5 linked regions of the Homo sapiens genome follow. The protein of the gene in region 1 purifies or fractionates together with the protein of each later gene. This does not show direct contact. Each region holds a gene or a part of one and is shown on either strand. Other genes may lie near its edges.

The links.
Region 2: the proteins of COPG2 (region 1) and ATL2 purify together in Homo sapiens (affinity purification with mass spectrometry; one large-scale study listed by BioGRID and IntAct). This does not show direct contact.
Region 3: the proteins of COPG2 (region 1) and RTN3 purify together in Homo sapiens (affinity purification with mass spectrometry; one large-scale study listed by BioGRID and IntAct). This does not show direct contact.
Region 4: the proteins of COPG2 (region 1) and ARL6IP5 purify together in Homo sapiens (affinity purification with mass spectrometry; one large-scale study listed by BioGRID and IntAct). This does not show direct contact.
Region 5: the proteins of COPG2 (region 1) and ATL3 purify together in Homo sapiens (affinity purification with mass spectrometry, with the first as the bait; one large-scale study listed by BioGRID). This does not show direct contact.

What each region holds. Positions count from the first base shown.
Region 1 is NC_000007.14:130,560,358-130,564,974, forward strand, and holds part of COPG2 (coatomer subunit gamma-2), read right to left. Parts: intron 4,037-4,617; coding exon 3,903-4,036; intron 2,980-3,902; coding exon 2,912-2,979; intron 865-2,911; coding exon 676-864; intron 1-675. UniProt on the Homo sapiens protein: The coatomer is a cytosolic protein complex that binds to dilysine motifs and reversibly associates with Golgi non-clathrin-coated vesicles, which further mediate biosynthetic protein transport from the ER, via the Golgi up to the trans Golgi network.
Region 2 is NC_000002.12:38,366,996-38,371,612, forward strand, and holds part of ATL2 (atlastin-2), read right to left. Parts: intron 1-4,617. UniProt on the Homo sapiens protein: Atlastin-2 (ATL2) is a membrane-anchored GTPase that mediates the GTP-dependent fusion of endoplasmic reticulum (ER) membranes, maintaining the continuous ER network. It facilitates the formation of three-way junctions where ER tubules intersect.
Region 3 is NC_000011.10:63,722,418-63,727,034, forward strand, and holds part of RTN3 (reticulon-3), read left to right. Parts: intron 1-3,732; coding exon of another isoform or gene 3,733-3,749; exon of another isoform or gene 3,750-4,617. UniProt on the Homo sapiens protein: May be involved in membrane trafficking in the early secretory pathway. Inhibits BACE1 activity and amyloid precursor protein processing. May induce caspase-8 cascade and apoptosis.
Region 4 is NC_000003.12:69,094,383-69,098,999, reverse strand, and holds part of ARL6IP5 (PRA1 family protein 3), read right to left. Parts: intron 1-4,617. UniProt on the Homo sapiens protein: Regulates intracellular concentrations of taurine and glutamate. Negatively modulates SLC1A1/EAAC1 glutamate transport activity by decreasing its affinity for glutamate in a PKC activity-dependent manner.
Region 5 is NC_000011.10:63,657,503-63,662,119, forward strand, and holds part of ATL3 (atlastin-3), read right to left. Parts: intron 1,751-4,617; coding exon 1,536-1,750; intron 1,461-1,535; exon of another isoform or gene 1,403-1,460; coding exon 1,259-1,402; intron 1-1,258. UniProt on the Homo sapiens protein: Atlastin-3 (ATL3) is a membrane-anchored GTPase that mediates the GTP-dependent fusion of endoplasmic reticulum (ER) membranes, maintaining the continuous ER network. It facilitates the formation of three-way junctions where ER tubules intersect.

The sequences.
Region 1 (4,617 bases):
GAGATATACCATATTCATGAAATAGAAAAATAATGTTAAGATGTCAGTTCTCCCCAAATTGATTTATAGATTCAACACAATCCCAGTCATAATCCTAGCAGGCTTGTTTAGTAGAAATTGATAAATTGGTCCTAAATTTCATAGGAAATGCAAAGGAACCAGAATATTAAAAAAGAAAAAGTTGGAAGACCGCACTACTTAAGAGGTACCATAATGCTACATTAATCAATATTAGTGTGGTACTGGTACTGGATTGACAAACAGTTCAGTAACATAATACAAAGCCCAAAAATATACCTAAAATATATGGGTATTTGCTTTGTAGACAAAGGTGCCAAAGCACTCCAACAGGGAAAAGGAAGTCTTTCCAACAAATTATGGTGGAATACAGTAGATATAGGTATGGAAAAAATACTGAACTTACCAAACAAACAGTAATTCAAGTTGGATCATTGCCTAAAATGTAAAATCTAAAACCATAAAGCATTTAGCCTAAAGCATGAGAAAACAAGTAGATAAAGGTTTCTTAGGGAACAGTAATAACTATGAAAGAAAAAAATTGATAAATTAGACTTCATAAAAATTTAAAACTTCTGCTTCTCAAATGATACCGTTAAGAAAATAAATAGGCAGCCAACAGACTGGGAGAAAATATGATCATGTTTAAACTCTTACCTTGAACTCATCTGAGATTTCAGACACAAAAGAAGATATCTGCTTCATGAGCCGGTCCACACTGCTCTCACTTCCTGTTTTGAGGAGTGTAGTAATGGCTAAGGTAGCAATGCTTCTGTTTGAGTCTGTGATTAAGTTTTCTAAGTCCAGATTGCAGGCAGTAACAGCAGAGGGGTGCTTCATTGCCACCTTGTGGAAGGGCAAGAAAAAAAATTAAGCAAATTGCTTTTGATAAAGGCCAGAACTTAAATTTTAATTGAGGTAAGTGGCAATCCAAAGAGGACAGGATAAGTTAAAAGTAATTGCTTCAAAAACAAAAAGAATGGCTCCAGTTAACAAGGTATATCTTTTAATAAATGATCAACGGCCAGAGTATAGCATCGTACTCTCTTTTGTTAGGTTCCTCTAACCTTTCTAACATTACCATTTTTAAAAAATTATAATTGGCCTGTATTTCCTTATAGTACGTGTGTTCATATACGTCTATTCTATTAGATGTTAGGAGTACTGACAACAGGATCTAGCATAGTAGTCAGTGCTCGACAAAGACTGTTAATATCTTATCAGTTAAAAAATACTGCTGCATTTCAAGACGCAAACTCCAGCCAAACTGCATTATCTATGGTTACTACATGGTCTGCCATTCTCCTGCATCCTTGTTTTTGTTGATGTTGTCCCACCTCTTTGTCTATCCCAATATTGGTATGGAATCCCTTACCCACAATTTGGAAAATCTGAAAACACTCTGGAAAGCAGAGCACTGGGATGAAAATCCATTTAACAGCAAAACATGACCCAAACTAATGCGAAACTCTTTAATTCTTAATTTATACCACTTGACAAGGATAGTCATATGTTTTGTGCAAAAATATTAATGTTTTTTAATGGTGGGATGCTGCCCCAGGCCCACTGGGGTTAGTAAATAAGAGATAACACCATATAACCTTTCTAAAATTTAACTAAAAGCAAATTCTGAGACACATCTGGCCCCAAGATTAGAGATGAGGGATTGTAGACCTGTATCAACTCTTTAAAAACAATTTAGGCCAGGCTTGGTGGCTCATACCTGCAATCCCAGCACTCTGGGAGGCCGAGGTGGGCAGATCACCTGAGGTCACGAGTTTGAGAGCAGCCTGGCCAACATGGCGAAACCCTGTCTCTACTAAAAATACAAAAATTAGCCGGACGTGGTGGCAGGTGCCTGTGATCCCTGCTATTTGGGAGGCTGAGGCATGAGAATCGCTTGAACCTGGGAGGCGGAGGTTGCAGTGTGCCAAGATCGTGCCACTGCACTCTAGCCTGGGAGACAAAGTGAGACTCTGTCTCCAAAAAAAATAAATAAATAAAAAACCATTTAAATTGTTGTTCTATAAAGGTTTCTTCCATGGCTGCTCTAAACTTCTCTTTTCTTCGACTGTTTACACAATTAATTTATAATTATGTATTGCCTATGACAAGTCTTCTATTACATTTAACTTTCATTTACATTTTCTATGCTTATTTAATTTATTCTGTGTTTCTGTATTATATCCTCTAAATCTATACTGTCTAATAACATAGCCAACAGCAACATGTGACTACCAGGCATTTGAAAGGTGGCTAATCCAAACTGAGTATGCTGTAAATGTAAATATACTGGATGTCAAAAACTTGAGATATGTAAAAATATCTATTACATGTTGAGATGACATATTATATGTATTATGATAAAATATACTATTAAAATTAATTTTACCTTAAAAATTTTAATGTGGTTATTATGAAATTTAATATTACATATGTGATTCACAGTGGGTTTCTACTGGACAGGGCTGCTGTAGACCAGCACTGTGCAAGAGAACTTTCTTCAATGACAGAAATGTTCAAGATCTGCACTGTCCAACAGCCACTGACCACATGTGGCTGTGAGTACAAGAAGTGTGACTCATGTGACTGAGGGTTGAATTTTTTATTTTAATTAATTTAAATTGAAATAGCCACTGGTGGCTAATGGCCACCATATTGGACAGTGTGGCTCTTGAATATAAAATGCTTAGAAGTCAGAAATGAGTTATAATCTTCAGCTAAATAATAATAAAAATGAGCATACTCAAGGCCACAAATACAAGTGAAGTGTTGTAGAGGTGAAGCCCATAAATCACATATACTAACCTTGGAGAGAAAACCAAATGCTTCACATTTAATGTTTCTCAATTAAATACTGATATAAGTCAATAATTAGCAAAGAAACACCTACCTTGTTCAAGGTCCTCACAGCTGCATATCTCAAGGCTGGCTTAGGAGAACTACAGAAAAGTTGAAGAACTAAAAAAAAATAATAATAATAATATGTAACATTAAGTAATATTACATATACATACCGTGAATACTCCTGGCTTAAGAGAACTATAGAAAAGTTGAAGAAGTAAAATACAGATATAGATACAGTGACTATTACCTATATATGCTGTGAATATTCCTTATCTCATCATATACCATATAGCTGAAAATATAGTACATAATGAATCACATTCAAAATATGCATACATTTTATCACAGCATCAAAAATTTACATGAAAAATGTAACATCAAAATAGAAAAAGCACTTTTGGGGCGCCTGTAGTCCCAGCTACTCGGGAGGCTGAGGCAGAAGCATGGCGTGAACCCAGGAGGCAGAGCTTGCAGTGAGCCGAGCTATCGTGCCACTGCACTCCTGCCTCAGTGACAGAGTGAGACTCCGTCTCAAAAAAAAAAAAAAAAAAGAAAAAAAAAAAAGAAAAAGCACTTTTGGTCAGTTATAAAAACTTAAATAAGAAACAAAGTTTGCTCTTTTTAAAAAAAAATTAGAATACCCATTAATACCTGAACTAAATGGTAGAAATATTGACAGTTCTGAAAACAAATGGGCTTTTTAAACACCAAGGAAAACTGTAAAATGTTTTCAAAAGTTTCATACGAGGAAACAGAAACTTTAAAAAAAAGCAATAAAGAACTATTATTAATAAACTATGTACATATAAATAAAATTCTTTCAAAAGTTTTATATGGAGAAATAGAAACATTAAAAAAAGTAATAAAGTAAGGAACAACTAAAATAAACTATCTACATATAAGCTATCAGAATGCAAAGGCTATATATACACAGAGCTAGTGTTCAGAAAACATTCTTAATACCTATTCTGTAGACCTATGAAACTTAAAGCAAAAACTTAGGAACATAAAAGCCAGCCATCAAATATAAAACAAACCTGAAACAGCAGGTGCCAACTCTCTTGCAGTGCAGTTAGGAAGATGGATGATAGCTGAAGCAGCTTCATAAATAACCATTTCATGTTTATTTCGCAAGCAGCTCTCAATGAAATCAAACAGTGGACTTTCATGGCTGCCAATAAATATTTATAGGCCATTATTTAGATATCAAATAGAGAGGCAATATGCATAGGGATTAAAAGCACAGGCAGATTGAGAGGCACTTCTGGAATGGTGGATGAGGGATTTCTAAAAATTCATTTCATCACAAAGCAATTAGAACACTGGCAAAATTGTCAAAATCAACTTTTGCAGAACTCTAAAAAATTAATCAAAGATTTGCAACAATCCTGAACATCTATTTAAGAAAAGTAGCTGAATCTTAGTAAAAATGGTGAAGTTTCTGGTGTTTTAACCTACTCATTCTCAATTTCCATGCACCTCTTCCCAGTTCCATAGCAGTCTTGGAAACCAGCAGCCTCAGAACCACAGTAACTGTGAATGCCAGCAGCCTAGCTACAAAAGCAGCTCTGGGCCAAAATCTCATCCCCAGAGAACTGTCACTATGTGACCTGTCTGGTGCTCCTAGAAAAGCCCTATTCACAGGCTAATCTTTACTTCACCTGACTCAAGAGCTCATTCAGCATGAAAAGCCCTATGCCCAGGGAGTTTGTCCAAAAAAATCAGTAGTATTTGGTTAATCTTGCAGCTGCC
Region 2 (4,617 bases), on another chromosome or scaffold:
CTTTATTACTATTATTATTTTTTTTAGCAACAGAGTCTCACTATGTCGCCCAGGCTCAGCTCCATCCTGCAGCCTCAGCCTCCCAAAGTGCTGGGATTAAAGGCACGAGCCACCGCACACAGCCAAGACATTATCTTTTAATCTTAGAACTTTTCAGGTAGGTTTTTTTTTAGGTTTTAAGAAACTAAAACTTATTTGTAGAGATCTGAACCTAGCTTCTAAGCTTGCTTTTCTTCTACCACGCTACTAGGCACTGAAACAGATGCCCACTCTCCGACAATAAAAAGAGATACGAATAAACAATCAATATATGATTAACAATTTAAGGCCGGGCGCGGTGGCTCATGCCTATAATCTCAGCACTTTGGGAGGCCAAGGCGGGCAGATCACGAGGTCAGGAGATCGAGAACATCCTGGCTAACACGGTGAAACCCCGTCTCTATTAAAAATACAAAAAAAAATTAGCCGGGCATGGTGGCGGGCGCCTGTAGTCCCAGTTACTACAGAGGCTGAGGCAGGAGAATACCATGAACCCGGAAGGCGGAGCTTGCAGTGAGCCACTGCACTCCAGCCCGGGGAACAGAGCAAGAATCCATCTCAAAAAAAAAAAAAAAAAAAAAACCGCCCATTTAAAACAACTTTTTTTTTTTTTTTGAGACGGAGTTTCACTCTTTTCACCCAGGCTGGAGTGCAATGGCGCGATCTCGGCTCACTGCCACCTCCGCCTCCAGGGTTCAAGTGATTCTCCAGCCTCAGCCTCTGGAGTAGCTGGGATTACAGGCGCTTGCCACCATGCCCAGCTAATTTTTGTATTTTTAGTAGAGATGGGGTTTCACCATGTTGTCCGGGCTGGTCTCGAACTTCTGACCTCAGGTGATCCTCCCACCTTGGCCTCCTAAAGTGCTGGGATTACAAACGTAAACCACCACGCCCGGCCTAAAACAACTTTTTTTTTTTTTTGAGGAGTCTCGCTCTCTCTCCCAGTCTGGAGTGCAGTGGCGCAATCTCGGCTCACTGCAAGCTCCACCTTCCGGGTTCACACCATTCTCCTGCCTCAGGCTCCCCAACAGCTGGGACTACAGGCGCCTGCCACCACGCCCGGCTAATTTTTTGTATTTTTAGTAGAGATGGGGTTTCACTGTGTTAGCCAGGATGGCCTCTATCTCCTGACCTCATGATCCACCCACCTCAGCCTCCCAAAGTGCTGGCATTACAGGCGTAAGCCACCGCACCTGGACTCTAAAATAAGGACTTTTTTTTTTTTTTTTTAATTTGAGACGGAGTTTCACTCTTGTTGCCCAGGCTGGAGCGCAATGGTGCAATCTCAGTTCACCTCAACCTCCACCTCCCAGGTTCAAGCGATTCTCCTGCCTCAGCCTCCCTAGTAGCTGGGATTACAGGCATGTGCCACCACGCCCGGCTAATTTTGTATTTTTAGTAGAGGCGGGGTTTCTCCATGTTGGTCAGGCTGGTCTCGAACTCCCCACCTCAGGTGATCCGCCCGCCTTGGCCTCCCAAAGTGCTGGGATTACAGGCATGAGCCACTGCACCCAGCCATAACAACTTTTTAAAAGCACTCCAATAGCATGCCTAAAGACTAAGACTACCACTAATAAGTTCAAAAAAATTGCCAATTTATTTAAGAAAAACATGAAAGAAACCAACACACACAATTCTCACCAAAAAAATACAAAATTAAAAAGCAAATATGAAAAATAATTTCCTGCATGCAAACAGGCTTTTACAAAACAATAAAAGAAATACTGGGAAATGCTCAAAAAATATTAAAAAGCAATTAATAAAAAGAAGTCAGAGCTGGGCACAGTAACTAACGCCTGTAATCCCAGCACTGAGAGGTGGAGGTTGGAGGATCGCTTAACCCCAGGAGTTCGAGACTAGCCTGGGCAACATAGTGATACCTCATCTCTAAAAAAGTAAATAAACTAATTCACATTTTCAATTTCCATATCACTATTCCAACATCAACTACAATCAAAAAATTGCAAATTAAACTGTAATATGCCCATTTTTACCTATATGTTGGCATTTATTTTTAATTAACACCCACTGTGAACAAAGATACTTGCAAACAAGCACAAACCTAACCCTGATGAATAAATGGGTAAAACCTTTCTGAATGGATCTAGCTTTTTCTTGAAAATGTACATGTCAGGCCAGGTGCAGTGCCTCACACCTGTAATCCCAGCACTTTGGGAGGCCAAGGTGGGTGGATCACCTGAGGTCAGGAGTTCAAGACCAGCCTGACCAACATAGTGAAACCCCCATCTCTACTAAAAATACAAAATTAGCTGGGCGTGGTGGCACATGCCTGTAATCCCAGCTACTTGGGAGGCAGAGGCACGAGAATCAGTTGAACTCAGAAGGTAGAGTGAGCCGAGACTGCTCTACTGCACTCCAGCCTGGGCGACAGAGTAAGACTCTGTCTCAAAGAAAAAATAAATAAATTTTTTTAGTAGAGACGGGGTTTCACTATGTTGGTCAGGCTGGTCTCGAACTCCTGACTTTGTCATCCACCCGCCTTAGCCTCCCAAAGTGCTGGGATTACAGTCGTGAGCCACCATGCTCGGCCAATTTTTTTTTTTTAATTAGCCAGGCATGGTGGCACACACCTGTAAGTCCCAGCTACTCAGGAGACTAAGGCAGGAGGTTCACTTGAGCCCAGAAGGTGGAGGCTGCATATTTGAGACCCTATCTCAAAAATAAGTACATAAATAAAAAATAAAAATTAAAGTGCTGATAAAAAGAAAACAGCAATTTATGAAGATGCTATTAATAGCCATCTTGAAAAAATTCTAAGAACAGGGGTGTTTTCCCGTCAAAACTCCTCTCGGATTTGTCATTAAAAAAAATCAAAGCCGGGCGCGGTGGCTCACGCCAGTAATCCCAGCACTTTGGGAAGCCGAGGCAGGTGGATCACGAGGTCAGGAGATTGAGACCATCCTGGCTAACACGGTGAAACCCCGTCTCTACTAAAAAAAATACAAAAAATTAGCCGGGCGAGGTGGCGGGCGCCTGTAGTCCCAGGTACTCGGGAGGCTCAGGCAGAAGAATGGCGTGAACCCCGGGGGGCGGAGCCTGCAGTGAGCCGAGATCCCGCCACTGCACTCCAACCTGGGCGACAGCGAGACTCCGTCAAAAAAAAAAAAAAAAAAAAAGAAAGAAAATCAAGACCGGGCGGTCGCTCACACCTGTAATCCCAGCACTTTGGGGGCCGAGGTGGGTGGATCACCTGAGGTCAGGAGTTTGAAACCAGCCTGGTCTGTCTCTACTAAAAATACAAAAATTAGCCGGGCACGGTGGCGGGCACCTGTAATCTCAGCTGCTCGGGAGGCTAAGGCAAGAGAATCACTTGAACCTGGGAGGCGGAGGTTACAGTGAGCCAAGATCGCGCCACTGCGCTCCAGCCTGGGAGACAGAGTGAGACTCTGTCCCAAAAAAAAAAAAAAAAAAAAAAAAAAAAAAAAAATCAACCCAGCCAGCACAGTGGCTCATGCCTGTAATCCCAGCACTTTGGGAGCCCAAGGCGGGCGGATCACTTGTGGTCAGAAGTTTGAGACCAGCCTGACCAACGTGGTAAGACCCGTCTCTACTAAAAAATACAAAAATTAGGCGTGGTAGCGGGTGCCTGTAGTCCCAGCTACTTGGGAGGCTGGGGCAGAAGAATCTCTTGAACCCAGAGGTGGAGGTTGCAGTGAGCCAAGACTGTGCCACTGCACTCCAGCCTGAGTGACAGAGCAAGACTCGATCTCAAAACGAAACAAAACAAAACAAAACAAAAAAATCAACCCCTGGCCCAGCAGGGTAGTGCAAGCCTGTAGACCTAGCTACATAGTAAGCTGAAATGGCGGGGGTGGGGGGTGCACCCCAGAAGTTCAAGGTTGCAGCGAGCTATGATTGAGCCACTGCACTCCAGCCTGTGCAACAAGGCTAGCCCCTATCTCGGGGGGGAAAAAAATAAGGAAAAAAATACAAAAAGATAAAAAAGATTAGGAAATGGCAAAAATCAACTCCCCCATTCTGATAAAGGTGAAATTAAACCAACTTTTGGCATCCCACAAATTCATTCACTGAAATTTTTAAAAAGCTCTCCATTTACCATGCCAACTTTCCTCCTTTGAGGAGTTTCTTTATAGAAGGCTTTCAAATTTCTAAATGGCATTTATAGGGTTTATCTCTTTAATTAAAAAAAAAAAAAAGAAAGAAAGAAATGGCTGGGTGTGGTGGCTGATGCCTGTAATCCCAACACTTGGGAGGCAGAGATGGAAGGATCACTTGAGTCCAGAAGTTTGAGACTAACCTGGACAACACAGGGAGACCACATCTCCACAAAAAATTTTAAAAACTAGCCAGGTGTGGTAGCACACTCCTGTAGTCTTAGTTACTGAAGAGGCTGATTCAGGAAGATTACTTGAGCCAGGGAGGTCAAAACCGCGGTGATCACGCCACTGCACTCCAGCCTTGGCAACAGGGCAAGACCTCGTTTCAAAAAACATAGAAACAAAACAAAATTTTTAAAAAAATTACTGTAAGTTTGCTAGGGTAGATATTAACCACTGGGAAGGAAAAAAAAAAATGTTACAGAAAAACATTACAGAC
Region 3 (4,617 bases), on another chromosome or scaffold:
ACTTAACCTTACAATGGTATTGTGAGGATTAAATATGAAAATGCAGGTAATACAGTGCCTAGCACATAGTAAATATGCAGTCAGATTTAGCACCAAATACAGGGCCTGCCACATAAGTAGTACTGGATAATTATTTGTTGAATGAATGATATGAATTATTTCACTAACAATTATCAGTGAAAGACATTGAGGCTTTTTGATAAACCAAAAATTTTGAATTACCAATTAAGGATAGCTCTTATACTCTAGCATTTGAAGCTCACTGAATTTGGATTAAAGAGTACTAGGTTCTAATTCTTGCTGTGCTGTGTCTAGAAGTATGACTTTGAACAAGTAACTTACATAACCTTTCGGGGGCCTCAGTTTTAATATCTGTAAAGTGAGGATGTAAAGTGAAGTAGATGGTCTTCAATTATCATTTAAATAATATGATTCTCTGGCTCTGGTACATTCTAGATTTCTTCCTCAGTTGTCATAATTCTTACAGGTAGTAACTTTTGGGCAATAAGGCATATAGGAATTATGCTACAAGAACTCCAGTGTCTAATTCTGGCAAATTCCTGTTTTAGCATGACCTTAGATGACTAGTCTAATTGGTTCAGCATCTTCCTTTGTTAATGTGATGATCATTATTTTGCCCTGCTTTGTATGTTGCAGTAAATAAAGTGCTGTGTAAATGCTAATTATTAGTGATTATCAACTGAATTATTTAATCTAGCGTGAGAGATGTAAAGGGCTATGGAAGTTCAGGATATTTGTCACTGACCAAAGTCTATGATTAGTGTATGTTTTTAGATTGTAATTAAAGAAGACCGGTATAGTTAGACCAAGAAGTTTAAAGGCCTTTCTTGCAGCTTTCAAAAGTGAAAACCTTTTAAAATTGTCTTATTTATGAATAAATCTTTAAAAATATAATCCATTTCATTGCAGTGAAATAAATAAATAAAAACATAAACCATTTCAGTAAAATGCATCAGTGTCTAGTTTTATTTATTTATCTTTTTTTTTTTTTTTTTAATTTTTTGAGACAGAGTCTCACTCTGTTGCCCAGGCTGGAGTGCAGTGGCGCGATCTCGGCTCACTGCAACCTCCACCTCCAGGGTTCAAGCGACTCTCCTGCCTCAGCCTTCCGAGTAGCTGGGATTACAGGCGTGTGCCACCACGCCCAGCTAATTTTTTGTATTTTTACTAGAGATGGGGTTTCACCATGTTGGCCAGGCTGGTCTCTCAAACTCCTGGCTTCAAGTGATCCGCCTGCGTTGGCCTCTCAAAGTGCTGGGATTTACAGGCCTGAGCCACCACACACAGCCGATTGTCTAGTTTTAAATACGTGTATCTGCATATTCTTCCTTTCTAAGGTAAAAACAGTGCTTTAATTATATTCTGCCTTAAGTTGTTTGGGAAAATAGGCAAAAGAAACAATGAAAGAATTAGTGGTTTTCTGTTTGTTTTTGCTATTTTATGGTATATTATGTAACAGCTTGTAATGAAGCCTTTATCATATTATAGTTGGTTGCTGAGTAATTAAGTTATGATAGACTCTCATAGTTTGGGGAAGAAAATCAGATCCCTGCCTCTCACATACCTAGTGTAGTGAAGATAGTTTTTTGTGTTTTAGTATCCAGATTGGCAGGATGCAAGGAAATAAGCATATAGTTTGGTGAAGTACATGTAAATTGTTACAGCCTTTCTGGAAGGCAGTTGGCAATATGTAACAGACCTAGAACTGCCCTAGCAATCTTGTTTTTAGGAATTCTTTTTTTTTTTTTTTTTTTTTTTTTTTGAGACAGAGTCTCGCTCTGTCGCCCAGGCTGGAGTGCAGTGGCGCAATCTCGGCTCACTGCAAGCTCTGCCTCCCGGGTTCACGCCATTCTCCTGCCTCAGCCTCCCGAGTAGCTGGGATTACGGGCGCCTGCTACCACGCCCGGCTAATTTTTTGTATTTTTTAGTACAGACGGGGTTTCACCATGTTAGCCAGGATGGCCTCAATCTCCTGACCTGGTGATCTGCCCACCTCGGCCTCCCAAAGTGCTGGGATTACAGGCGTGAGCCACCCGTGCCCGGCCCTTTTTTTTTTTTTTTTTTTTTTTTAAAGACAGAGTCTCACCGTGTTGCCCAGGCTGGAGTGCAATGGCACGATCTCGGGTCACTGCAACCTCCACCTCCCGGGTTCAAGCGATTCTCCTGCCTCAGCCTCCCAAGTAGCTGGGATTACAGGTGCCTGCCACCACGCCCGGCTAATTTTTTGTATTATTAGTAAAGACGGAGTTTCACTATATTGGCCAGGCTGGTCTCGAACTCCTGACCTCGTGATCCGCCCGCCTTGGCTTCCCAAAATACTGAGATTACAGGCGTGAGCCACGGAACCCAGCTGGAATTTATCCTTTTTTAAAAATGTGCAAAAATAACTACACAGATGTTCATTATAGCACAGTTTATGATAGTGGCAGATATCTCGGTGTCTTAACAATTAGAGATTGGTTGAGTATATTATGGTATAACTGTGCAATCGAATATTACACAGTCATTGAAGTTGTTAAAGTTTTGTTTTTTTTTTTTTTAAGAAATGGAAAAATATAGAAAAGTACAAAGGCAGCCTACACCCATATCTTCTCTATATGTAGAATTAACTTATGTTAATTGTTAGCATTGGTAGTCATATTTGCTTCCAAACTAAAGGACTCTTTGATTACCACCTGGCCACGCCCTCCATCTCCCCTTCCCCAGACGTAACACCGTCATGGACCTGGTACATCCTTCCAGTTTATTTTAAATAAATGTGTTTGTATTGTTTTATGCTTTTTAACCATTCATTCATGTTATCATGTTTGTTGTATAACGTTTTCCATTCAACATTAGGTTTTTAAACTTCTTTCATGTTGGAATTTATATAATTTATTCATTTTAACAGCTATGTAGTAATCCATTATATGAATATATTATTTTCTTTTGGTAAGGATTTAGATTCTTTCCTATTTTTTGCTATTATAGACAGCGCTGAAGTTAACATTCTTCTTTTTTTTTTTCCTTTTTCTTTTTCTTTTTTGAGATGGAGGAGTTTCACTCTGTCGCCCAGGCTGGAGTGCAGTGGTGCAATCTCCGCTCACTGCAAGCTCCGCCTCCCGGGTTCATGCCATTCTCCCGCCTCAGCCTCCTGAGTAGCTGGGACTACAGGCGCCTGCTACCACGCCCAGCTAATTTTATTTTTGTATTTTTAGTAGAGTCGGGGTTTCACTGTGTTAGCCAGGATGGTCTCAATCTCCTGGCCTCGTGATCCGCCCGCCTCGGCCTCCCAAAGTGCTGGAATTACAGGCATGAGCCACCGCGCCCGGCCTTAAGTTAACGTTGTTATACTTGTCTGTTTTTACACATATGTGACTATTTCCCCAGCGTTAGGGTGCTACTGCTTATCAGTTTCACTTCTAGCTCTGTGCCTTATTTTTCTAGTTACTGTCAAAGTTAGTGTCTTCTGTTATGTAAAAATGTTCGTAATTTATTAGTAAAAACTACATTGTTCAGCACCCAGCAGATGGTGGGTGCTAAAGTGGAATGAAAAGAGTTACCAAACAAGGAATACAAAATAATTCCTATCTTGGTATCATTTAAAGTGAATCTATGCTAGAAAGATTCCATAAAGAAAAAAAATGAATCTATATACCTACATATACAGGGAATCTGAAGTAATTTTTAAAAGCAATGTCAGAATGGTTTTCTTTTCTTATGGCCAAGTAGGCTTTTACTGGACCTGACCTTCCTGCATATAACTGGACAAAATTTTTAAAAAACAAAGACCCGAAGGCACTGGAGGATGAACGGGAGCAGTCAGATTCTGAAAGAGAGTTGACACATGTAAGAAGAGACAGCATGAAATTAGTTTTTTATTTTTACTGCTTTTAGCTAGAGGACAGGCTGAAGTGGGCACCTGACAGGCTGGCTTAAACCTTCATAGAAAACCTAAGCAGTGGACAGCATTTGGGTCAGCCACAACCACTGAGTCAGTGGAATGTAAGGGGAGGAGGAATCTTGGAAGGGAGAGATCCAGAGAGTGACAGCCTAAAATTCTGTAGATAAAATAAACTGTGTTTAAGCCTCTGTTTAATTGTAAACCACACTTAACACAAAAGATTATAAGCAGCACAACTAGAGATGAAAGAAGTGAACTGGGCCGGGTGCAATGGCCCACGCCTGTAATCCCAGCACTTTGGGAGGCCAAGGCGGGTGGATCACGAGATCAGGAGTTCAAGACCAGCCTGGTCAAGCTGGTGAAACCCCATCTCTACTAAAAATACAAAAATTAGCCGGGCACATTGGCAGGCGCCTGTAATCCCACCTACTCAGGTGGCTGAGGCAGGAGAATCGCTTGAACCCCTGGGGGTGGAGGTTGCAGTGAGCCAAGATCATGCCATTGCACTACAGCCTGGGTGACAGAGTAAGACTCCGTCTGAAAAAAAAAAAAAAAAAGAAGAAGTGAGCCGAGTTTGTAGTTTGAAGGCCAGGCACAGTGGCTCATGCCTGTAATCCCAGTACTTCAGGAGGCTGAAGCAGGTGGATCACTTGAGCCCAAGAGTTCAAGGCCAGCCTGGGCAGCATGGTGAAACCCCATCTCCACTAAAAAAT
Region 4 (4,617 bases), on another chromosome or scaffold:
CTTCAAGCCAATAAATCCCCTCCTCAGAATATAGTCTAAGGAATTAAACAAAAACGCAAAGATTGAGTTGTAACAGTATTGATATTAGTGGTATTTATGATTAAAAACTTTCAGAAACGACCTATATGGCCAACAATACCAATAGCTGTGGTATTGTATACACAGCTATTTTTAAAACATTGAAGTGCATTTAATAATATGGGAAGACATTATATATTGAGTGGGTAAAAGCAATTGTAATACATAATGCATTGTCTGTTAGGTAGATTTATCATATAAGTTAGATAGCTCAGAAGTAGAAGTTTCTAGGCTGAGTACAGTGGCTCAAGCCTGTAATCCCAGCACTTTGTGGGGGCCAAGGTGGGTGGATCTTTTGAAGTCAGGAGTTTGAGACCAGCCTGGCCAACGTGGTGAAACCCCACCTCTACTAAAAATACAAAAATTAGCTGGGCCTGGGCTGGGCATGGTGGCTCATGTCTGTAATCCCAGCACTTTGGGAGGCTGAGGCGGGCAGATCACCTGAGGTCAGGAGTTCAAGACCAGCCTGGCCTACATGGTAAAACCCTGTCTCTACTAAAAATACAAAAAATTAGTTGGGCTCGGTGGCGGGAGCCTGTAATCTCAGCTACTCGGAGGCTGAGGCAGGAGAATTGCTTGAACCTGGGAGGCGGAGGTTGTAGTGAGCCGAGATGGTGCCATTGCACTCCAGCCTGGGCAACAAGAGCAAAACTATGTCTCAAAAAAAAAAAAAAAAAAAAAGCCAGGTATGGTGGCAGGCACCTGTAGTCCCAGTTACTTGGTAGGCTGAGGCAGGAGAATCACTTGAACCCGGGAGGCAGAGGGTGCAGTGAGCCGAGATTGCGCCACTGCACTCCAGCCTGGGTGACAGAGTGAGACTCTGTTTCCAAAAAAAAAAGAAATAGAAATTTCTATAATTAGTATATTATTTCATAATCAGAAATAAAATGAATATATAAAAAAGGAAATACAAAAACATAAAAGCAGCTGCTCTCCAACCCACAACCGCCGCTTGGCACAGACCAACCACAAAAGTCCATCTCTACTTGTCCCATCTCGCCAACAACATTAATGGAATTTCAGTTCATGAACCACAGCGAAGCTGTTCCTTCTCCAATCCAAATCCTGGTTTTCTGCTCATCCTCCAGATCCTCTTGTGCCAGTCTATAGCACCCCAGTGCCCCAACCTTCCCCAATACCCAGCACATGTGCTATTCTCTCTGCCCTCTTCCCCTCCCTCTTGGTTCTGTGTTACCTGGGTCTACTTGGCCTCTCTGCACTTTCTTTCTGTTTTATTTTATCTGGATTATGCCCTGTCTTCTGAGACAACCCCGGAATTGGTCTGGGAAAGAAAAAATTCCCTTATACGCCTGAGGAAGGAAAGAATCTGATGAATCAAAACCACAATCCCCTTCAGCAGGTTGTAGAGAGTGGAGAGTGAATGAAGAGGCCTTGAAACTCTTATAGATTAATATTATCTAATTCCCAGCATCACAAAAGATTCTAAGCCAGTGTGGTAGCTCATGTCTGTAATCCCAGCACTCTGGGAAGCCGAGGTGGCGGATGCATCGCTTGAGCCCAGGAGTTTGAGGCCATCCTAGGCAACATGGCGAAACCCCATCTCTCCAAAAAAAAAAAAAAACACCCCACAAAAATTAGCCAGGTGTGGCAGCACACACCTATAGTCCCCACTACTTGGAAAGCTGAGGTAGGAGGATCATCTGAGCTCAGAGGTCAAGGCTGCAGGGAGCTGTGATGGTGCCACTATACTCTAGCCTGGGTAACAGAGTGAGATCCTGTCTCAATTAAAAAATAAAAAGATACTTAGAGAAACTGAAAAATTATACCAAAGACTACAGTATAGTAGGATAAGGGGAGTTTATTTCCATTTGCTTATTTTTATTTTCATATTTTTTTCAATGGCCATGTATTCCTTGATGAATAAAAAAAATTGGTATTTAAAAATGAACAAATGAAATTGGGGAAAGGCTCCTGAATGTAAAAAACCCTTTACAAAGCCTTGACTTTGACCTATAACCTACCCAAATGTTTCTTCTGAGCCGTAAAGAAAAACAAAGATCGCCAGGTACAGTGGCTCACACCTGTAATCCCAGCACTTTGGGAGGCTGAGGCAGGTGGATCACAAGGTCAGGAGATCAAGACCATCCTGGTCAACATGGTGAAACCCCGTCTCTACTAAAAGTACAAAACTAAGCCTGGCTTGGTGGCATGTGCCTGTAATCCCAACTACTTGGGAGGCTGAGGCAGGAGAATTGCTTGAACCCGGGAGGCGGAGGCTGCAGTGAGCCGAGATTGTGCCACTGCACTCCAGCCTGGGTGACAGAGCGAGATTCCGTCTCAAAAAAAAAAAAAAAAAAAAAAAAGCAAAGCAAAACAAAGATCAAATCAACACAAAGAACTCAAATGGAGGATTGAAATTCAAGGAAATTCCTTTGCATACCCTGCAAGTAGGAGTGGGTTGGCTGGCAGCAAAGCATCAAAGGGCTCCTACTCAGTTCATTCTGGAATACTTATTAAAATAATAATTCATGAAGTGAAGCATATAACAAAATTCATGTCAAGCTGTTTTTATTTTCCTCTAGACAAGTAAAATACATATTTAGGTTGAGTGCCTAAAGTCCAGGACAAGGAACAATGAAAAATCCAGGCCTAACTCAAGCAATTCCAAATTTGTTTCACCTGTTCTGGTTGCTCATGTCCAAGAGAAAAGAACAGAGCCTGAAGTTCTATAGAACTGGTTTTAGTTCATAACCTGCCCAACAACAGTCTATAATTAGAAAGCAAGCAAGTTTCCAAGCTGGAAAAAAACTAACGAAGTTACTCTGAGCAGAAATTATTTTCTTCTGTATCTGATAAAATGTATACCACTCCAATGCCCTGGCACTTACCTGTATTTGGAACAAAAGACAGACAGACAGACAGACAGACACACACACACACACCCTCTACAGATTAACAGAAATTCTCAGAAATCTGGGAACCAGTTCTTGCCTGAGATGCTTTTTAGTCAACAGTTGGGCTGTTTATCACAGCAATCACGACAAACCCCAAAGACTTTTAGGACAAAACTTTCCATAAACATGCCACCCATCTTTCATGTAGACAGCTGCCTCTGTGGTCTGCTGGGTGGAGTTTCACTTACTGATAGTCCTAGAGTAAGAAAGAGGGCTGGGTGCGGTGGATCATAACTGTAATCCCAGAACTTTGGGAGGCTGAGGTGGGTGGATCAGCTGAAGCTAGGAGTTTGAGACCAGCCTGGCCAACATGGCGAAACCCCATCTCTACTAAAAACATAAAAATTAGCTGGGCGTGGTGGCGCATGCCTGTAATCCCAGCTGTTCAGGAGGCTGAGACACGAGAATCACTTGAACCTGGGAGGTGGAGGTTGAAGTGAGCTGAGATTGTGCCACTCCAGCGTGGGTGACAGAGCCAGACTCCGTCTCAAAAAAAAAAAAAAGAACGAGGGATGGTGAGAAAGAAGGGAGAAACAGCAGGACCTAGTTTTGCAACTCAAAAACCGTTATGTTTTTCTATTGTGAAATTAAAAATATATTAATACATATGTTTGTATATATTTTAATTATATATATTTAAAATATGAACATGTATTACCCAATTCCAATAAATAATTAATAAATCTTTCCCTATAATAGTTACACATTCTAGAGCAGTCATTTATGGTTATAAAAAGGTTTAGAATCCCATCACAGAAATTTTGTAGCAGTCTTCAAAGATGAATCAGTCTAGTCCAATTATACAGATAACTAAACTGAGGCCCAGAGAAGAAACATATCCAAAGGGATCCAGGAGAGAAACAAGAAAACAAGGGTGCCAGTTGTGGCAGCAACTCACAGTAGAACCCATTCTGTCATGTTAACCGGCTTTAAGGATTTCCCCCACACTCTAAGTAACCTACTATAACCAAGGATCATCCTGGAAAATCCCTCTGCACTCTCATTTCTCTCTGAAACAAGGTGGCTATTAGTGGGTGTGGATACAGGTCCTAAACTTCCCAACGTGATTCAGTAGCTATGTCTATAGTTTTACCACAAGTTACTGAAAGGGGAAAAAAAAATCTCACAAAATTTTAGAGCTAGGAAGGATCTTGCTAACCCACCTCATTTTACACGTAAGCAAGCTAAAGAATATACAAGTTAATAAATTTGTCCAAGGCCACCAATTGCAAAGTTGGCAATAAAAGTTTGCCATAACAGAAATCCTCGGATCAACTCAAGGCCACATTTGGTGACTCCTGTCAGGCTGCAAGGCCAAAAAGAACCACCAAAGAGGCAGCAAAATATTTCCTGAGGAGTACAGGCAGCTTTGCACTGAGTTCCAATTTTCTAGCCGAAAAAGCTATTTTTGAAGTGTGGTTTCTGAGGAAGGCTGACTCACCGAAAAAGTGGGGAACAATATACTCACGGTGGACTTCTCTAAATTGGCGATGTTTCTCTGTGGTCCTTAATCAGCCAGAGGGATCACTGCAAATATGAACCCACCCAACCATTTTCTTTTCATTGTTCTTAAACTAAAAACAGAATTCTTTAAACATTCTACAAGGCTTCGCAGGGTCTGGCC
Region 5 (4,617 bases), on another chromosome or scaffold:
CCCATACAGGAGTAAGGAAGTAAAGAACAGAAGTGGTAACACATAAGAGCATCAGCCTCTGGGAAGTGAAAACTGGGTAGAGAGGAGAATAACACACATGACAGCTGCTTTCTGTTAGAAGCCTTACAGTAGTACCTGACCTTTTAAACTATATTCATGCATTTTATTTAAGAATCTTAAAAACAATCAATATGTATTAATTTTAAATCATTCACTTTGATAAAAAGTTGTTTTCACATCTTCCTTCCTTTTATTGAAAAAAAATTTCAGAAAATAACAGTTCATAAAAGACACAAACAAATCAACAGGTATATACCAGTGGAAAACACAATATGAAACTAAAAATGCCATTGGCTTTTTTTTTTTTTTTTTGAGACGGAGTCTCGTACTGTCGCCCGAGCTGGAGGACAGTGGTGTGATCTCGGCTCACTGCAACCTCTGCCTCCCGGGTTCAAGCGTTTCTCCTGCCTCAGCCTCCCAAGTAGCTGGGATTACAGGCACCCACCACCACACCCAGCTAATTTTTTGTATTTTTAGTAGAGACAGGGTTTCACTATGTTGGCCAGGCTGGTCTCAAACTCCTGACCTTGTGATCTGCCCACCCTGGCCTCCCAAAGTGTTGGTATTACAGACGTGAGCCACAGCACCCGGCTGCCACTGGCTTCTTTAATTGGTTAAGAGCACAAAATGTAACAGGCAGAAGGTCTGTTTCAAACAAATTAAAAAGCTATGTGTTTTTTAAATTCTCCCCAAGTTGGATATACACACACCCACAAAAATAGTGTGTGAAGGAAAGCTGTCATACACAGTAAGTTGTATCCTGAATTATTCAAGGAAACACATGTTGAAATAGGAATTAACAGAGTCAGCAACAGATTAATATTTTTTAACTGAGTCTAAAAATGCTACATAGCCCTAAGGAATACTACATAAAGTACTGCTAGGTACAAACAAAAAAGTCTGTATAGCTTTTAGCAAAAATGTTTTTCCAGAAAAGAAAATTAAAATAATGCAATCAGCAGACCAAGGAGACTACAGCTAGACATCAGAGCTACAACTTCGCATACCTGTGTCAGAAAATCCTATTTATCCACAACAGACTAAAATTTCAGGACAAAACAGGGACTTTTTAACTTTTCTTACTTTACCCATTTTAAATTCTTTGATAAAAGGTTTTTAATTGGGTTAACACAGTACATGCTGAAGTTCATATTTTGTTGTTGTTGTTGTTAATCTGTAAGGTCATTTTCATCCTTACCTTCTTCCCACCTGGCTTCTCCACAGTGAAAACTTCACTCCAGATTTGAATCCCAGTGGTTTCTGGATCAGATCCCCCTCTCCAGGAAAATCCTGTTAACGGTTCTTCTGGGTCACCCAACCAATTTGAATGGCCACTTTCCTTCTACAGAAGTAAGAAATTTCTATTAAATCTTAAATTAAAAATTTTATGCATCAAGGATAATCTATGAGCTTATTTCGCTTTTTTGGACATTAAAGTCTCACTTTTTACTTGAAATAAAATAATTCTATCTTACCTGAGAATATAAGTATCGTAGCATAAAATCCAGAATGAAGGACTTGCCCTTTCGGAAGGCACCAGCCACTGAAACCACCACCACATCAAGATCTCGGATGTGGTCCTGCAAGAGGATGCTGGCCAAGGCTTTCTCATCTAGCTCAAAGGAATGTTGATCTTTCTGAACCAAAACAACCTGCACTGGACCAGGCTTGCTGCTCTCCATGGCATCATCTATGTTCATGCAGAGAAAAAAAATCAGTGTCAAATATTTAAAATATGTTTTTGAATATAGGGAAAACAAAAACTTCTTAAACAGGGGACAGGGCCAGGCTCAATGGCTCATGCCTATAATCACAGCACTTTGGGAAACCAAAGCAGAAAGATTACTTGAGGCCAGGAGTTTCAGACTAGCCTGGGAAACGGTGAAACCCAGCGCTATGAAATTTAAAAAATTAGCCATATGTAGTGGTGTATACCTGTAGTCCTAGCTACTTGGGAGGCTGAGGCAGGAAGACTGCTTGAGCCCAGGGGTTTGAGGTTACAGTGAGCTATGACCACACCACTGTACTCCAACCTGGGTGACAAAACTAAACAAAACAAAAAACGGACACAAAAATACTAACCATAAAAGGGCAGGGCACAGTGGTTCGCCCCTGTAATCCCAGCACTTTGGGAAGCCGAGGTGGGTGGATCACTTGAGGTCAGGAGTTCAAGACCAGCCTGGCCAACATGACGAAACCCCATCTCTACCAACAAATACAAAAATTAGCTGGGTGTGGTGGCACGCACCTGTAAGTCCTAGCTACTCGGGAGGCTGAGGCACGAGAATAACTTGAAACTGGGAGGCAGAGGTTGCAGTGAGCCGAGATCATGCCATTGCACTCCCACCTGGGTGACAGATAAGACCCTGTCTCAAGTTAATGGGTGCAGCACACCAGCATGGAACATGTATACATATGTAACTAACCTGCACATTGTGCACATGTACCCTAAAACTTAAAGTATAATAATAATAAAAAATAAATAAAATAAAATGTTGTTAAAAAAAAAAAGACCCTGTCTCAAAGAAAAAAAGTACTATCCATAAAAGAAAATAAAATGACAACACAGACTTCATTAAAATTAAAAACTTTGTTCACTTAAAGACTTCAATAAGTAAAAATGCAAGCCATGGGCTAGGGAAGAGTATTCACAATATCTGTTTCCAAAGGACCCACATCCAGCATCAACATAGCAATCCATAAGAAAAAAATAACAGGCACTTTGTAAGAAAAAGATATACAAATCCTATTAAAAGGTACTTCCATATCATTACTTAACAGGGAAATCTAAATTAAAACCACAATAAGATACCACTACCTGCCCATCAGAATGGCTAAAATTTAAAGACTGACAATATCAACTGTGGGACAGGGTATGAAGCAACCGCAATTCTCACACATTCTGATAGGAGCACAAAATACTAAAGCCACTTCAAAAAACTGTTTGGCTGTATCTACAAAAATTAAATATATCTGTGATCCAGCAATTCTACTCCTAGGTATACACCTAAGAGAAATGAATGCCTATGTCCACCAAAAAACATATATACAAGAATGTTGAGCTGGGCATGGTGGCTCGCACATATAGTCCCAGCTACTTGGAGAGCTGAGGCAGGAGGATTACTTGGGCCCAGGAGTTCAAGACCAACCTGGACAATATTGCAAGACTCTATCTCAAAAACAGAAAGTTCATTATCAGCTTTACTCAAAACAGTCCAAAAGTGGAAATAAAACAATGTCTATCAATAATAGTGTTTGCCACTGCTAAGCTTTATTTAGATATATATATACACATATATATATATTATTTAATCCTCAGAACAACTCTTTGATGTAAATAATACTGCTCCATTTTAAGAAGAAGGAAATGGCCAGGCTCAGTGGCTCACATTTACAATCTCAGCACTTTGGGAGGCCAAGGCAAGCTGATCACTTGAGGTCAGGAGTTCAAAACCAGCCTGGCCAACATGGTAAAGCCCCGTCTCTATAAAAATACAGAAAAAAAAAAAAATTAGCCATGCGTGGTGTCGCACGCCTGTGGTCCCAGCTACTGAAGAGGCTGAGGGAGAAGAATTGCTTGAACCGGGAGGCAGAAGCTGCAGTGAGCCGTGATCGCGCCACTGCACTCCAGCCTGGGTGGCAGAGTGAGACTTGGTCTCAAAAAAAAAAAAAAAGAAGGAAATGAAGGCTTATGAAGGTTCAGCATATTGCCCAACAGGTCCTAGATATAAGCTCAAAAAGATCTTTAGGTGGTTGTATTTTGCATATCACTAGTAATAACTCAAAAAGTTTTAGAAGCTATTAATTCTATAGTTCAAAATTAAGCACTAACTATATTATACTTTCCTTACCAGAGTTTCCCTACCAAAGCACAAAGATAACTAATTAATTTGAAATTCAGGCCAGGCACAGCATCCACGCCTGTAATCCTAGCACTTAGAGAAGCTGAGATGGCAGGATTGCTTGAGGCCAGGAGTTCAAGACCAACTTGGCCAATATAGCGAGAGACTGTCTTAAAGAGAAGAGAAGAGAAGAGAAGGCAAGGGGCCGGGCGTGCTGGCTCACCTGCGCAATCCCAGCACTTTGGGAGGCCGAGGCGGGCAGATCACCTGAGGTTGTGAGTTCCAGACCAGCCTGACCAACATGGAGAAACCCCATCTCTACTAAAAATACAAAATTAGCCCGGTGTGGTGGCACGTGCTTGTAATCCCAGCTACTTAGGAGGCTGAGGCAGGAGAATCGCTTGAACCCAGTAGGTGGAGGTTGTGGTGAGCTGAGATTGCACCACTGCACTCCAGCCTGGGCAAAAGAGTGACACTCCGTCTCAAAAAAAAAAAGTGAAAAGAAAGCAAGAAGGAAATTCATTCAGGCTAGACATGGTGGCTCACACCTGTAATCCCAGCACTTTGGGGGCCAAGGCAGGCGTGTCACCTGAGGTCAGGAGTTCGAGACCACCCTGGTCCAACATGGTGAAACTCCATCTCTACTAAAAATACAAAAATTAGCCGGGCGTGGTGGTGGGTGCCTGTAATCCCAGCTACTCCAGAGGCTGAGGCA